2 separate regions of the Homo sapiens genome follow, and region 2 is reported to be linked to region 1. The links are microRNA targets in miRTarBase. Many come from high-throughput screens and were not tested one by one. Region 1 holds a microRNA gene; the other region holds the end of a gene's coding sequence.
Evidence for each region. The annotated mature microRNA hsa-miR-1273h-5p reads CUGGGAGGUCAAGGCUGCAGU and lies in region 1 at 3,038-3,058, opposite strand. An mRNA with a match to its seed (bases 2 to 7 or 8) in the 3' UTR can be bound and repressed. Matches are read on the target gene's strand: a 7mer-m8 pairs with bases 2 to 8, a 7mer-A1 pairs with bases 2 to 7 and ends in A, and an 8mer does both.

Region 1 (8,062 bases):
ATTTGTGGTCTGGGTTTTGGCAGAAAAAAAGAGAGATTTAAGTCTCCTTTTTCTGCTAATAATGAAGGTCCCTTACAATCAGGGATCTTTTATCTCTTATGTTTATTTAGGGAGGAAGTCAGTAGGAGAGGGGTCTTTTGTGTTTGATACTAAGTCTGTTTTGTTTTGCTCTTGCTTTTCTTAATTTTCATTAAAAAATAACATCCAGTGTTTTGATTTCCTCCAGATCTCAGTTTAAATGGCACCCTGTCAGAGAAGCTGTTCCAGACCACCTTCAAATAAAGAGGATTCTCATTCTTCCCTCCTGTTATTCTCTGTCAAGATATCCTGTTCATTTCTTTAACAGAAATAAAATCTGGTATATCTCAGTCTATAATTATTAATACATGTTCATTCTCTGTTGATTGTCTATGTTCTCATCTAGACTGTAAGCCACATGAGAGCAAAATCACATCTGTTTTATTCACCACTGCGTTTCTAGAACCCAGGGATGAAAAAAAATCAAATGGACAAATAATAGTGTATGTTAAGCACTAACTATGAGCCAGATACTGTGTTAAGTGTTTTGCAAGCTTTACCTCCTTTAATCCCCCCAAAAGCTCTATGAAGTCCTTGCTGTGCAATGAGAAAATGGGTTTAGTTTAAGTATCTGACCACGATTTGATCCTAGATTTGACAAGAGATCCAGACTCTTCTATCAGTCTCCTACATTTATCGCAGAAACAAACAAGCTATTAAAAAGCACCAAGATGCCAGGCATGGTGGTGCCATGCCTATAATACCAGCACTTTGGGAGGCCCAGGTGGAAGGATCACTTGAGATCAGGAGTTTGAGACCAGCCTGGGCAACATAGAGAGAACCTGTCTCTACAAAGAATTTTTTAAAAATTGGCCAGGCATGGTGGTGCATGCCTGTGGTCCCAGCTGTTCAAGAGGCTGAGGCACGGGGAATCCCTTGAGCCCAGGAACTGGAGGCTGCAGTGAGCTATGACTGTTCCACTTCACTTCAGCCTGGGTAACAGAGTAAGACCCTGTCTCTAAAAAAAAAAAAAAAAAAAAAAGGAATTATAATAATAATTTTTTTTTTGAGATGAAGTCTCACTTTGTCGCCCAGGCTGGTGTGCAGTGGCACGATCTCGGCTCACTGCAACCTCCACCTCCCGGGTTCAAGCGATTCTCCTGCCTCAGCCTCCCAAGTAGCTGGGACTACAGGCACCCATCACCATGCCCAGCTAATTTTTGTATTTTTAGTAGAGACGGGGTTTCACTATGTTGGCTAGGCTGGTCTCGAACTCCTGACCTCGTGATCTGCACGCCTTGGCCTCCCAAAGTGCTAGGATTACAGGCATGAGCCTCTGTGCCTGGCCATAAAAAATTTTAAAACACACAAAAGAATCCTTCTTAATCCCGCCACCCCAAATCTCTGTATTATGTTAACATCTTGGTTTGTATCCTAGATGGCTGGATGAATAGATGAATGGATGTTTTTTAGTTTTTAGACAAAGGTGGAATCATGACTCTGTTCTTTTGCTTGCTTTTTAAAAGAAACTAGATGAAATACACTCTAAACATCTTCCCATGTCAACAGAATATCATTTTTTTTCTTATCTATTCTTCACCATTCATCCTAAACCCACATTGTTGGCTTCAAGTAAACTCACCCTCAAATAGTAATTATCCCTTCTATTTGCCTATCTTTTTATAGCTTTGATTCCCACAAGGCTGTGAGATAGGCAGGAAAAGGATTATCTCTACTTAACAGATAATTTTAAGAGTTAACAGTTTGTTCAGGGTCATATAGGGTCAAGTAGGAGAGCCAAGATCCAGAGCCCATCTGTTCAATTCCAAAGCCCATGGGCTTTCCATTACATCCCATTGCCTCATACTATGTATCTGATTGTGTGGCACGGACTTAAAAGTTAAGCTAACCTGGGTACCAATCCTGGCTCCAACAATTCCCAGCTATACAACCTTCAAGCAAGTTAGCTAAGTCCCCTAAGCTCAAGTTTCTTGTAGGGTGTGGCGAGAATGACTTGATAAAATTCACATCAAATACTTAACATGGTAGCTGGTGGTTACTGCTGAGGGCTGACTGACCCATTCATGTCCAGTGAGTAAGTCTGACAGGGCTGTGCTCTGGCTTGAAAGAGGTCCTGTACGCTCTGCCAAACCCTAAATTCCTACCCATATTCCCATCCCAATTACAAGCAGAATGAGGACCTGCCAGTGCTACTTTAGACATAGAACAGAAACCTTCCCACTTAGCCTGGTGCATCACGGCAGGAAGCTACAAGACAAAGCCAGGCCCTGGGGCTCCCAGTTAGAGGAAGTGAGAAAAAGACGTGTACCCTGGGAAGAAAAAGGGATGCATTTCCGTTCCCATCCAAGCCTCACTTCCTTAGAAAGACATTTCAGGTAGATTAACACACCATCTCTGTGCTGTTTTCCATATGCCATTTGGGGGGGCATTTTGTGGTTATTTTTAAGAGACTGCACTTGTAACAAAACAAAAAGTAAGCTTTCTGTTTTCCTTTCTGGGTCATGAGCTGGTCTCAACCCTCCAAATTCAACTGTCACTGGAAGTCTTTGTGGAGTTGGAATTTCTATTGGGAGTGGCTGTGAAGGTAGGAAGAACATCAGCAAATGTGGTGATATGGTTTGAATGTGTTCTCCCAAAGTTCTTGTGCTGGACACTTAATCCCCAATGCAACAGTGTTGAGAGGTGGGAACTTTTGGAGGTGACTGGATTGATGTTATTATTGTGGGAGTGAATTTATTTAAAAAGTAAGTTACCCTCCCTCATGTGTTCTCTTGCCATGTGATGCCTTCTATCAGGTTACTATGCAGCAAGAAGGTCCTCCCCAGATACAGCCCCTGATCTTGTACTTCCCACCCTCCAGAACCATGAGCCAAATAAATTTCTTTTCATTGTAAGTTATCCACTTTTTTTTTTTTGAGACAGGGTCTCACTCTGTCACTCGAGCAGGAGGATTGCTTAAGCCTGGGAGGTCGAGTCTGCAGCAAGCTGTGACCACGACACTGCAGCCTTGACCTCCCAGGCTCAAGCAATCCTGCCTTAGTCACCCAAGTAGCTGGGACTACAGGCATGTGCCACCCCACCTGGTTGATTTTTGTAATTTTTGTGTGTGTAAAGACAGATTTTGCCATGTTCCCCAAGCTGGTCTCAAACTCCTGGGCTCAAGCTCAAGTGATCTGCCCATGTTAACCTCCCAAAGTGCTGGAATTACAGGCATGAGCCACTGCACCAGGCCCCAGTTTCAGGTATTCTTATAGCAGCACAAAACAGACTAAGACAGACACACAATGTCATAAAAATGAAGGAGAAGAGGGGCTTAAAAAGAAAGAAGGCACTCTGAACTTTTCCTACAGATAAACTCACTTATATAGGAAACTAGGAAGTTATTCAAAGGGTGATGTAGAGTTAGATAAGCAGATAAGAAACAATCTCCAAGACAGAGGGGAATAATGCAAGATACAGAAATTGTACACAGCATGCTAACATCCTTGTGTGTGATGTAGACTATTTCTGGGCCTGAACACATCTTCTCTAGAAGGTCACACAAGAACCTGGTTGCAATGGGTGTCTCTGGGAAGGAGAACCAGGAAGCCTAGCTAGGAGCCATGGGTGAGGGGAATCTTAATTTCACTTTGTAGCTTCTGATGCTGCTTGAATATTTTATTTTTTCACATTTTTTTAAAGGAGAAAGGATTAGAGCACCTAATAATATGGTGAGGTCAAGAAAGATGAGACAAGCTTATGAGAAGAGGCAGTTTTCAGGTCATTGATGACTCAATGAGAAAAATATCAATAGGATGGCGGGAGCAGAAGCCAGATTGCACCAAACTGAGGAAACAATAAATTGTCATCAAGTGGAAATAGCAGGAACTGGCAACTCTTTCAAAAGTGTGTTTGTATGCAAAGTAAGGTAGGGTAGTAATCATAGCAGTAGTAAGAGTAGTAGTAAGGAGGATTCCCAGGTTTGAGGTAGGGGATTTTTAACATGAAAAAGACATAGCAGGTTTATGCACAAAGGAGAAGGCCAGGATAGAGTCAGAAAGGACAGCTGCTGTTTTTGCCCAGCCAGCAGGCATTGTCTTTTCTTCTAGTGACAGTGGCTTTATTTTTCTTTTTTTCTTTTTTTTTTTTTTTGAGACGGAGTCTCGCTCTTTTGCCCAGGCTGGACTGCAGTGGCGCTATCTCAGCTCACTGCAAGCTCCGCCTCCTGGGTTCACGCCATTCTCCTGCCTCAGCCTCCCGAGTAGCTGGGACTACAGGTGCCCGCCACCGCGCCCAGCTAATTTTTTGTATTTTTTAGTGGAGATGGGGTTTCACCGTGTTAGCCAAGATGGTCTCGATCTCCTGACCTCATGATCCACCCGCCTCAGCCTCCCAAAGTGCTGGGATTATAGGCGTGAGCCACCACACCCGGCCATGACAGTGGCTTTTTTTTCTTAAAGGAGATATTCCTTCTCTTCTTTCAAAATGTCTGATTTAGATAGGACATTCCTTCTCTTTTTTCAAAATGTCTGGATTAGATCCAGCTCTCTGGCTAAGAGGGGCTGGTGACCCAGGCCCGGTCAATCAGCACATTCCATCCCCCTGGTGCAGTGAGCAATTCCCTTAGAGATGGGCATATGACCCAATAATCTTCCAAAAAGATTGAGTCCTAGGCTGCTGGGATTTTATAAAAAGGAAGCCCTTTTCTTTGGTAGAAGTTGCAGAGATAATGGGACATAAATTGGGAGTTGCTATGTGCCCAAGAAAGCCTTCTGAGAATGAAGAATGAAGTCAACACAGTGGGGAAAGTAATCCTAAGGGATATAGATAAATGTTTCCCTGCTGGCATTGTTTGGGACCAGATGTAGATGATCCATCTACATCTGAATACTAACTATCATTATTTTTTGCTTAAAAGTCAGTTTAAATCAGATTCCTATTTGAAACCATAGGAGTTTTGTTGATACAGAGAGAAGCTGTAGACAGACTAAACAGGGGAGATAAGCATGAAGGATCAAGAGGCTGGAGTCCAGAGCAGGAGTGAGGGTAAGTCTCACATGAGTTGGGGGAGGGAAAACATATTTGCTAAGACAGAGATGGAAGCTGGGCAAGGAGGTCAAGATGACTATGGAGGTGCCGGTAGGTGGTAAGAAGCTGACGGCTACCAACCAGTGGCACCCATGGGCCTCAATCTTCCTCACGATTTAGGGCAGGGATCCCCAATCCCTGGGCCATGGACCAGTATCAAAATAACAATAATAATAATAAATAATAATATAATAGTACATGACTCAAAGTCATGTATCTGGTAGGTTCTATGGTTGACTTGCCCCGCCAAAGTTCATGTGTTAGAAACTGAATCTCCAATGCAACAGTGTTGAGAGGTGGCACCTCATGAGAACTTAACAACATTATCTTGGTAGTGGGATCCTAATAAAAGGGATGAGTTTGGCTCCGTATCTTTCCCCTGCATGTGCACACACATGTATGCATATGCATATATATGCACACACATGCACGCATACTCTCTCTTGCCCTTCACCTTCTGCCATGGGATGACACAGCAAGAAGTCTCTCACCAGATGCAAGCCCCTCACCCTTGGACTTCCCAGCCTCCAGAACTGTAAGAAATAAATTTCTTTTCTTTATAAATTATCTAGTCTGTGGTATTCAGTCATAGCAACACAACATGGACTAAGACAGAAACTGATTTAGGAACTTCACCTGGCTCAGGAACCTGACAATTCCAACCATCTAAAGGGAGCCTGGTTTGATCTGAAGTTTAAATGGGTTCTCCATGGGTGTGTAGATAGGTGGAGAGAGATAAACAGACTCCAAGCTGTGTGTCCTAAATGGCTCTTGGCTATTTGTTTGTCAGTATATAAATGTAGGTTGATATTTTTATTAAGATCTCTGCAAACTCCACACAGTGGATACCCCAAAAGAACAACCAGAAATGAGCAGGGAAACCTCTACTCCTTAATGAGCCTGTCTCGGCTGCCTCATTTCAATGCTGCCATGCCCTTCTTTCAGAGGTTAGTCAATGCATGCCGTCTTTGTCAGCCTCAAAATCAAAGCCCTAAGGAACAAATAAGATTTGCATCTTTTAAAATCCTGACAACGAATTATAAAAGCTGTGAAGATGCTACTTATTTGTTGCAATATTTTAAAATAAATTTAAATCATTTGAATTGTAAGAATACTCAGTCTTTTTCTATTATGTAACAGACACCATTCGATGGTGTTATCATGACTCTCCTGGTAGCACAATCACAAACCTTACCAGGGGCTCCAAGTGCTTCTAATAATCTTTACAAGGGTCTTGTGCAGTGTACAGTCCAGGGATCAAGTCCTGGCTCCTCTGCTTTCTAGTTGCTGGACCTTGGGCAAATGCCTTAACTTTTCCAAGCTCTAGTTCCTCATCTATACTGTGGTGATAACCCTACCTTACAGGGTTGAGAGAATTAAATGAGGCAATTCATGGAAGGCAGTTAAAACAGTGCCTGATGCAGACAAAAATGCAATATATTTTCTAATATATTTGAACAGTAAAGGTTTTATGAGAATTATTTTAAATCACAATTTTCAAAAATGAATTGTTCTCTTGAGTATTTGATACTTTGGGGGAGTTAGGTTCTGTGCTTAAATAAATCACATTGAGTAAGTGTTAGATCCTTTTCTTAAGGCTTGAATTTGGAGTTTTAACAGCAAACATACAAAGGTTACACTTTCTGGATTCAATTCAGAAATGTCAGCACATCAAACACACACATTCAGACACACACACACAGAGGCACTTACTCATACAGTGTAAAGGGCAATTGGGTTTGGAAGAGAATGTCACATGAACAGATTCGCAGCTCATTAAAGCAGTACTTGAAGCTTTTGACCTCAGCTACATAAACAATGTTTTCAGATGATAAAATTGCTGAGAAACCAAGTCCTGTGAGTATGATTTAGTTTCTGAAGCAGTTCAGCATTTAGACTCTCAGAGGATACGGGCAATGGGATGTGATCAGATAGCCCAAGTAGTATTTTGGAAATGATACTAACAGAGCATAGGACAAGGACCTTTGCAAGCTATAAAAGCTTGCCAGGTTTTCAGCCTTTCCTACTGTCCAGATGCCTCAAAATTATGGGGCTTTAAGTAAAGTGCAGATAAGAATCGGTAACAAGAGCAGAAATGATTGGAATCAGTCTGTCATACAAGTGGGTTTGGAGTTAGTGAGGCCTGACACAGGCTAGAATGGAAGGAAGGAGGGAATGAGCATTGTAGTGATGTCTAGACAGGACTGGATGGTTGCTCCAATGTCAGGAGTGGAGGAAAGGGGATCTTAACGTCTGCTTCTCATCAGGTTGTACTCCTCAAGCCCTGCCCAGAGAGCATTGACGATCAGATGCATCATATTTTAGAACACTTGACAATCTGGTTGACCATATTTTAGAACAATTGATGATCTGATTGATAATATTTTAAAAGAATACTAGAGCCATGTTTACTACTGGGCAGATCATTGTACACACACTTTAGCGCTTAAGACTCCACAGGTGCCAGGCACAGTGGCTCACGCCTGTAACCCCCAGCACTTTCAGAGGCAGAGGTGGGAGGATCACTTGAGGCCAGGATTTTGACACCAGCCTGGGCAATTAATTAAAAACAATGAAAAAACAAATAAATAAAAAGCAGAAAAGACTCCAAGGACTCTAATGAAGCCTACTTAGCTTTCTCTTCCTCTTCACCTCACTGCTTCTATGCTGCTACCTGGGTTGTCTTCTGAGGCGGCTGAATCCTTGTACCCTGGGCTCATCCCCCTACCCAGTTTTCACAGTAAGCCCTTCATTAGGTGTTATGGACACTATGGGAGCCTTTCAGAGGAAGAGTGACAGGACTTCATTAAGCCAATTCGTGACAATACATGAATGCCACCAAACTCTCCATTAGGCATTTCAATGTGAACATATTACCTAGCATATCTTGTCCTGTGACATTATAGCTCCATGTACTACCACTTCTGCAATAAAATATGCTCATCCATGCCAAAGG
Region 2 (7,000 bases), not on the chromosome of region 1:
TTGGAGACAGAGCCTTGCTCTGTCACCCAGACTGGAGTGCAGTGGCATGATCTTGGCTCACTGCAACCTCTGTCTCCCAGGTTCAAGTGATTCTTGTGCCTCAGCCTCCTGAGTAGCTGAGATTACAGGCGTGTGCCACCACACCCAGCTAATTTTTGTATTTTTAATAGATACAGCGTTTCGCCATGTTGGCCAGGCCGGTCTCGAGGTCCTGGCCTCAAGTGATCCACCTGCCTCGGCCTCCCAAAGTGCTGGGATTACAGGCGTGAGCCACTGCGCCCGGCCCCTTGCTGTTCTGAACACCCCAAGCACACTACTGATCTTTGCTGTTCCTGTTGTTTCCTCTGTTTGGCTCACTCTTTCCCCAGATGTCTGCAGGGCTCACACTCTCACTTTCCTTAGGTCTCTGTGTAGATAGCATATAATCAGTAAGGCCTTCTCAGACTACCTGCTATGATTAACAAGGTCCTCCTCTGGCATTCCCTAGCCATCTTAGCCTGCTTTATTTTTCTCTACAACTCTTAAGGTCTGACAAATCATATCTTTATTCTCTCTCCTCCACTGTAACATAAGCTCCAAGAGGGCAGGAACTTTTTCTTGTTCTGCTCTGTTGTCTGTATCTAAAACAATGCCTGGCAGATAATAGGTACTCAAAAAAAAATTGTTGAAGGAATTACTATTTGCTCTTTCAGAAGATGTGATGGTTTGCTTCGGGAACATGTTTATCAAGATGCCTCACCCTGAGACAAAGGAAATGATTGAAAAAGGTAAGGCCTCCTGGGGATGGGTCAGGGGTGTGCTGCCTCTCCCACCAGCTTTGGTCTTAACCCAGAACAGGGAGTCAGGCTTCAGGCAGCGTAAGGAGAGGCAGTTCTGTCACAGGGTTCAGACTGCTGTGGGTTTTAATTCCACCTCTGCCACTGTGGGTTATTTCCTCATCTCTAAGAGGGGGATGCATCTGTGTAGCATAGCTGTGCAGTTGAGGTAAAACAATATGTGTGCCTAGCATAGTGCTTTCTTATTAGTGAGGAATCAGTTGGGCTGCAGATAACAAAACCCAACAAATTGAGGCTTAAGGAAATATGCTTCTTTTACTCTTGCATAAGAAATTGTCCAGAGGTGTGTACTCCAGTCCTGGCATAGATGCCCAGCAGTGGCACCTTAGCATATTCTCCTGGTTGTTGTTTCATCGTTGCAGGCCTCATGTCCTCATGCCAGGCTGGAGGAAAGACAGAAGGCTTTCGCCACATAGAGCTTTGCCTTCTATTTTGGAAGTAAGGCCATCTCCTCAGGGACTTCCTGCCAACATCTCATTGGCCAGAACTAAGTCACATGGTCACCCATAGCTGCAAGAGAGCCTGGGAGAGTGAGCTTTTCTTTTTTACATGCCCTGCAATAGAGACTGGGTTGAAAATGGAGGTTTGGGGAGATTAAACCTCTAGGGTCTGCCATAGCCTAGGCACTCAGTGTACTCAGTTTCCACAACCATAATCTGGAAGCTCTTTGGAAAAGCATCTTAAAGCAAGTCAGGCTGCAAATGGATTATTGGCTAGAAAAAGAACAGGCTACACATACTTTTTCTTCCATAACCTTGAAAATGGCCAAAAGGACAAGCAAGGTTGCCTCAGTCCCTGAAGACAGGATGTCTTCATACCTCATGAAATAAAACTTTTTTTTTTTTCCTTGAGACAGAGTCTTGCTCTGTCACCCAGGCTGGAGTGCAATGGTGCTATCTCGGCTCACTGCAACCTTTGCCTCCCAGGTTCAAGCAATTCTCCTGCCTCAGCCTCCTGATTAGCTGGAATTATAGGTGCATGCCATCATGCGTGGCTAATTTTTGTGTTTTTTTAGTAAAGACAGGGTTTTGCTATGTTGGCCAGGCTGGTCTAAGTGACCTCAGGTGATCCACCCACCTTGGCCTCCCACCAAAGTGCTGGGATTACAGGCGTGAGCCACTGCTCCTGGCCAGTGACATAAAACTACTAACAGGAAGCTATATCCAGCCTGGAGAAGTTTCCAGCTGTTGTGTTGAAAAAATACACTAATATTATGGTTATAAAATTAAACTGCACTTGGTGGTGGGCTGGAGGCTAAGCTTTCAGAGGGTCCCTTGCCTGGGTTCAGGATCTTGTTGGCCCTTTTGGCCCCCAAATGTCGTCTTGTCACTGTACCTAGAGGGGTTCTGAGACATTATCAGATTTCTTGGGGATCAACATAGGCTAAACAAGCTCATGGACATTGGGGTTACTCATTCACAATGAGAAATAGAACCAGGCTGTAAGGCTTGGCCATTCAGGGTTTCTCCCCCATCTGAAAGAGTGAGTCTGTGGGGAAGACAGGCTAGCCAGAATGTCACTCATGAGCAGGTGGAATTGGCTGGGTGACTTCAGTCAATTGGTCAATCAAGCTTTGATAGCCACCTCTGTCATCACACCAACTCTTCTCAGGGGCAGTCCATGACACTAGAAGACCCTTTTCTGTTCACAGTGGCTAATTAAGTTAAGCTTGAGCATTGCTTGCGTGTTGATTGTTTACGTCACATGTTTACACAATCATGTTTTTCTAAAACCCCCTCACCTTGATGGACTTGGGTTTGTAAAATTTCTTAGGCATCCATTTTCCAGCCATCTAGGGTGGGCTGAATCTAGAGATGCTTATTTTGTTTGTGCATTTGAATTTTCCATAATTTCATTGTGGGAGGGCAGCCTAAAGTCCTGATGTTGCCTTCTCCATCCACTGACCACCCCAAGGTACTTTGCATAATGCAGAAAAGGCCAGTGTAATGGGAGTTGGGACTGCTGTGTCCTGGGCTCTCTGAGTGGTCCTGAGCAGGTCATGTCCCTTCTAGACTTTAATCCTTCCTCAGTTGGCCTCTGATGTCCCCTTTTCCTTCCTGAAAGCTACACGCCCTTGCTGGGGAGAGGCTGGCCTCTCCACTACTGGGATCAAGTCTGTCTGGTACAATCTTATCCTCTGCTTGCCCCCCTCATTTTTTCAGATCAAGATCATCTGGATAAAGAAATAGAAAAACTGCGGAAGCAACTTAAAGTGAAGGTCAACCGCCTTTTTGAGGCCCAAGGTATTGGCTTAGCAGGGACTGGAGATAAGAAGGGGAGGGAATCATCAGCATGGACTTTGAAGGGCAGGGATGGGAAGTCCGACCCTCAGAGATGGGCAGTGTCCGGGGCAGCCTGTGAGTGGCCCTGGAGGTGTGCACAGTGGTTGGTTGTAGCTGCCCAGGGACAGAATGGACAGGGGGACTTCTACAGTCCTAGTCCTGTCATAGTTTCTTTTCCAGGTCCCAGGAACCGCTTGGGGTGATCTCACGTTATACATCGGGGCATGGCATGGGGATCAGATAGCTCTGACTGAGGAAACTCAGAAGGCTTCAGTGAGTGAGTGAGGTCAGAGCTGAAATTCTTGATAAATGCAAGCACTCTAGATTGGTCACAGGTCTTGGAAAAACCTGAGGTTCTTTGGGCAGCAGAGTTACGCGTTTGCAGGCTCTTGGTGACACAGGAGCAGTGGTGATGCCTCATCTGGTGCATTGCAGAATTGGAGGCCCATCCCTGCCAGACCTCCAGGCTGAGTTTGGCAGCATTAGTGCAGCGTCAGCCCCTTTCCTGGGCCTGGCTCCAGAGCCAGCAGGAGGCCCGACGTGCTGATGGATCATCTTCTCTCCTAGGCAAACCGGAGCTGAAGGGTTTTAACTTGAACCCCCTCAACCAGGATGAGCTTAAAGCTCTCAAGGTCATCTTGAAAGGATGAGACTCAAGAACCAAGATGGGGGACCAGCAACCCCCCAGGGTCATGGAGGACCCAGGACCCTCCAACCTTGACACCTGTAAGGACAGGATCTGCCCTGTAAGGGGCCAGCCGTCAGGAATCTGGCCATGAAAACCTCTTTGTAGTGCTTGGCTACTCTGTGATGGCAGGAGGGAACCTTCAGCCTGTCTGGCTGCTGGACCTGGACACCAGGGCTCGGTGGACACAAGATCTATTGACGGGCCTTGGTAGCCACCAGTGGGTGTGTGGGGCAGTGGCTGTGGGGGTGTAAGAATGACTGCAACAGGCACTTCCCAACAATGGCCTGCTGTTCACATGGACCCTGAGCAAGGAAGGAGGGAGGGAGGGGCAGAGTGGAGTGTCATTCCAGCATTCCTCTCAGAAGGGAGAGAGGTTTTCAGGCTGGTGCCATGCGATTGGAATAAAGCAGGAGGCTCATGGGTGGTTGCTGAATGAAGAACAGAATCTTGGTGCTTTGTGGCTCACCACAGCCATCTGTGGGGCAGGCACACACACCTCCCGCCAGCTCCAATTTTGCACTTTTTCCCTGCTTGATTCCAAGAGTAGGTGCTGCCTAGCAGCCCTTCGTGGCCACTCTTTACTCAGGAGGGCCTTGCAGAGTCCTGCACCAGGCCTGGGTGAGTGGATGCGCCTCTTACCATATGACACGTGTCAAGATGCCCTTCCGCCCCCTCTGAAAGTGGGGCCCGGCCAGCACTGCTCGTTACTGTCTGCCTTCAGTGGTCTGAGGTCCCAGTATGAACTGCCGTGAAGTCAAAACTCTTATGTGTTCATTAAGGGCTCAATAAATGTTAGCTGAATGAATGAATAGCAGCAACTAGTCTTTATTTGCCTCATCTAGTCCTTCAGTAAGGGCACGCCACTCCATTTAGAATACAACCTATGAACATGGTTCTTGCCTTGAAATAAACCTGTGATTTGACAGGCGGGTGATAACAAATGGCAGCATGGCAGGGGCACACCTCTCCTGGTCCCCCCGCTCCTTGGCTCTGGCTCATAGTTACATAGAAACACAGGCTGTCATGGCCAGTTCTTACGTGTTTTCAAGAGAAGCTAGACATATGGGTTGTGAAGTTGAATCTCCTTTTAAATATTTTTGACTAATGCAGAAACTTTTAAAACATGAGTGTGGGTCACAGGTGTTAGCTCCAGATAGTGCAATACCATACAACTATAATCAAGAATAAGGAACAAGCTCCAAGATACATCAAGTGAGGAAAGCAAGGGGAAGGCTGGTGTCTTATAAGCTAATAATTTTTGTGCAAGCACAGTGTGATTCCCTCAGAACAGCACCTGCAGGGTTGGGGCGCACAGGTGGGAGGGAAGGAGATGTCACCCTATACCCTTTTGTAAACTTTGGATTTTAAACCGTATGAATATATTGCTTATTTTAAAATGTAAATAAAGTAGGGAGTTGCAGAATTCACCTTGCTAGATGTTGTCCAGTGTGACTGCCTGATTCACAATTTCATCACTGGAAAATTGCCCCTTCCTCCCTGGCAGGGTGGGTGCTGGGCCAAAAAAAGCTAATCGCATTCCTTCTGGAAATAGGGAACCTGGAGTCCATGCCTGGACCTGTCTGGGTTGGTGTGCCTCAGGTACAGGGATGAGTGGGAGAAGTCCTCATGCTCTGAAGGCAGAAGGTCTAGAGTAGCCTGGCTTCTGGCTTTCCTAAAGTCGGCTGGTTCACTTCTTGGATTTGCCAGTATTTTCCTTCCAAAAGTCTTCCCTTCGGGCTTGACCTAGGCAGGCAGATTCAACCATTTGCAGCCAGAGAAACTACTCTGAAGCAGGCGGAGTGGTAGAGGGAGTAAGTCCCCCCTGGAACAGTTACCCCAACAGCCCCGAGTCTTGTTGCAACCCCTCTTAAACCAAGAGGAAGCTTAGCAATGTAAGATGTGAAAAGGCAGATTTTTACTCACACTCAACTCCCGAAGCTGTCCTGCCCATGAGCCCAGGGTTTTCCGGTTTCTGGCTCAGCTCCCAATCTCAAACACAAGGCCTAGAGAAGCACTTAAGTCACCCATCTGACTTAGATAAATGCACCTTTGCAGAGACCCTCACTAAGCTCTGCCTCCCTGGTCTGTCTTGTCCATCTGAGAAATGGGGATGCCCTGTCCCACTGGTTTTCAGATGATGGTCAGGGAGCCCCATGGGCTCCCCTGACATGCAAGGAGAAGAGGATGTGTTTAGGGCTCAGTACTTCCCCAGGCCCCCAATAAACACACAATCTAATAACTGCTTGCTGTGTAAGCACAGCTTAAAGACGAGTTCCTTAGCCTCCAAACTCTTGCTCCTGAAGGACCTTTTCAGCACTGACTTGGGAGGTATCCAAGTGTCAAAGCCAGGAGGACTTGGCTGCAGCCAACAGTATCCCCGGAACCAGGCCTGGTGCCCAGTGACTCCAAGTAGGGCCTGTGCTCATTTATTAGATATGATCTCCTGGGGGTAGCAGAACTTGCTGTATTTGTTCTCTTTGGGCCTAACTGCCAAGTCAGTTTGTCAAGGTTAAACCTCCCCCAGTCCCAGTGATTGGCTGTCTCCTGGTGCAAAGATGCCTGGGGATGGGCTGGAGGTATCCAAGGGGCCCAATTCAGGTAGTAAGCTGCAGCTGCTAAGCCAGCAAAGCTGGTGCCAGGCTGGAGGTGGGGAGGCGAATGCTGTGAGGTGCTGTGCTGGGATCTGGGAGTGGGGGGGAGGCCTGGGTGGCACCTGCTAAGGCTGATTTCCTCCTGGCAGCTGGGGATCAACTGGAAGCTTTCTTCTGAACTTGAAGGGAGCAGAAGAGCTGCCTCAGTTGTTTCTTCCGATCGTTGACGCAGCCTGGAAAGGAAGTGGGGTGTTGGCTGGGATGACCTATGCTTGGGAGGAGTGGAGGGGCCTGTGCCCCAACTCCCTGCTGGGAAGAGGGGACAGCGGGAGTCAGACAACCACACACAGCCTGTGGTTTATATCCTGGCTCCATTCCTAAACTGCCATGGCCCTCAAGCAGGTCAGTTACCCTTTTCAGCATCGGTCTTCTCATCTGTAAACCAGGATACTACTGCCCACCTTATGGAGTGAACATGAGGACTGGGGGCTTACCTCAAGCCAGGAACTGCTCCAGATGCTGAATGTGGATGGATTTGTTTGGCCCTCGCAGGAATGATGTGTAGAAGGGAAAACAGGCTCAGAGAGGTTAAATCATTTGAAC

Region 2: miRTarBase lists TTLL9 as a target of hsa-miR-1273h-5p. Seed matches in the 3' UTR shown: 8mer at 6,128-6,135 and 7mer-m8 at 5,123-5,129.

The regions. Positions count from the first base shown.
Region 1 is chr16:24,198,144-24,206,205 of GRCh38, reverse strand. MIR1273H (microRNA 1273h) reads right to left here and starts at 3,090; the gene lies at 2,975-3,090. The region is part of intron 16 of PRKCB (protein kinase C beta); the gene reads right to left.
Region 2 is chr20:31,942,575-31,949,574 of GRCh38, reverse strand. TTLL9 (tubulin tyrosine ligase like 9) reads right to left here. Exons shown (of 15, transcript NM_001008409.5): 15 at 4,575-6,630. The coding sequence ends at 6,554. PDRG1 (p53 and DNA damage regulated 1) reads left to right here. Exons shown (of 5, transcript NM_030815.3): 3 at 693-767; 4 at 2,999-3,079; 5 at 3,686-5,238. The coding sequence ends at 3,768. Among named protein-coding and RNA genes, the nearest start is that of PDRG1, 6.0 kb to the left of the region's middle.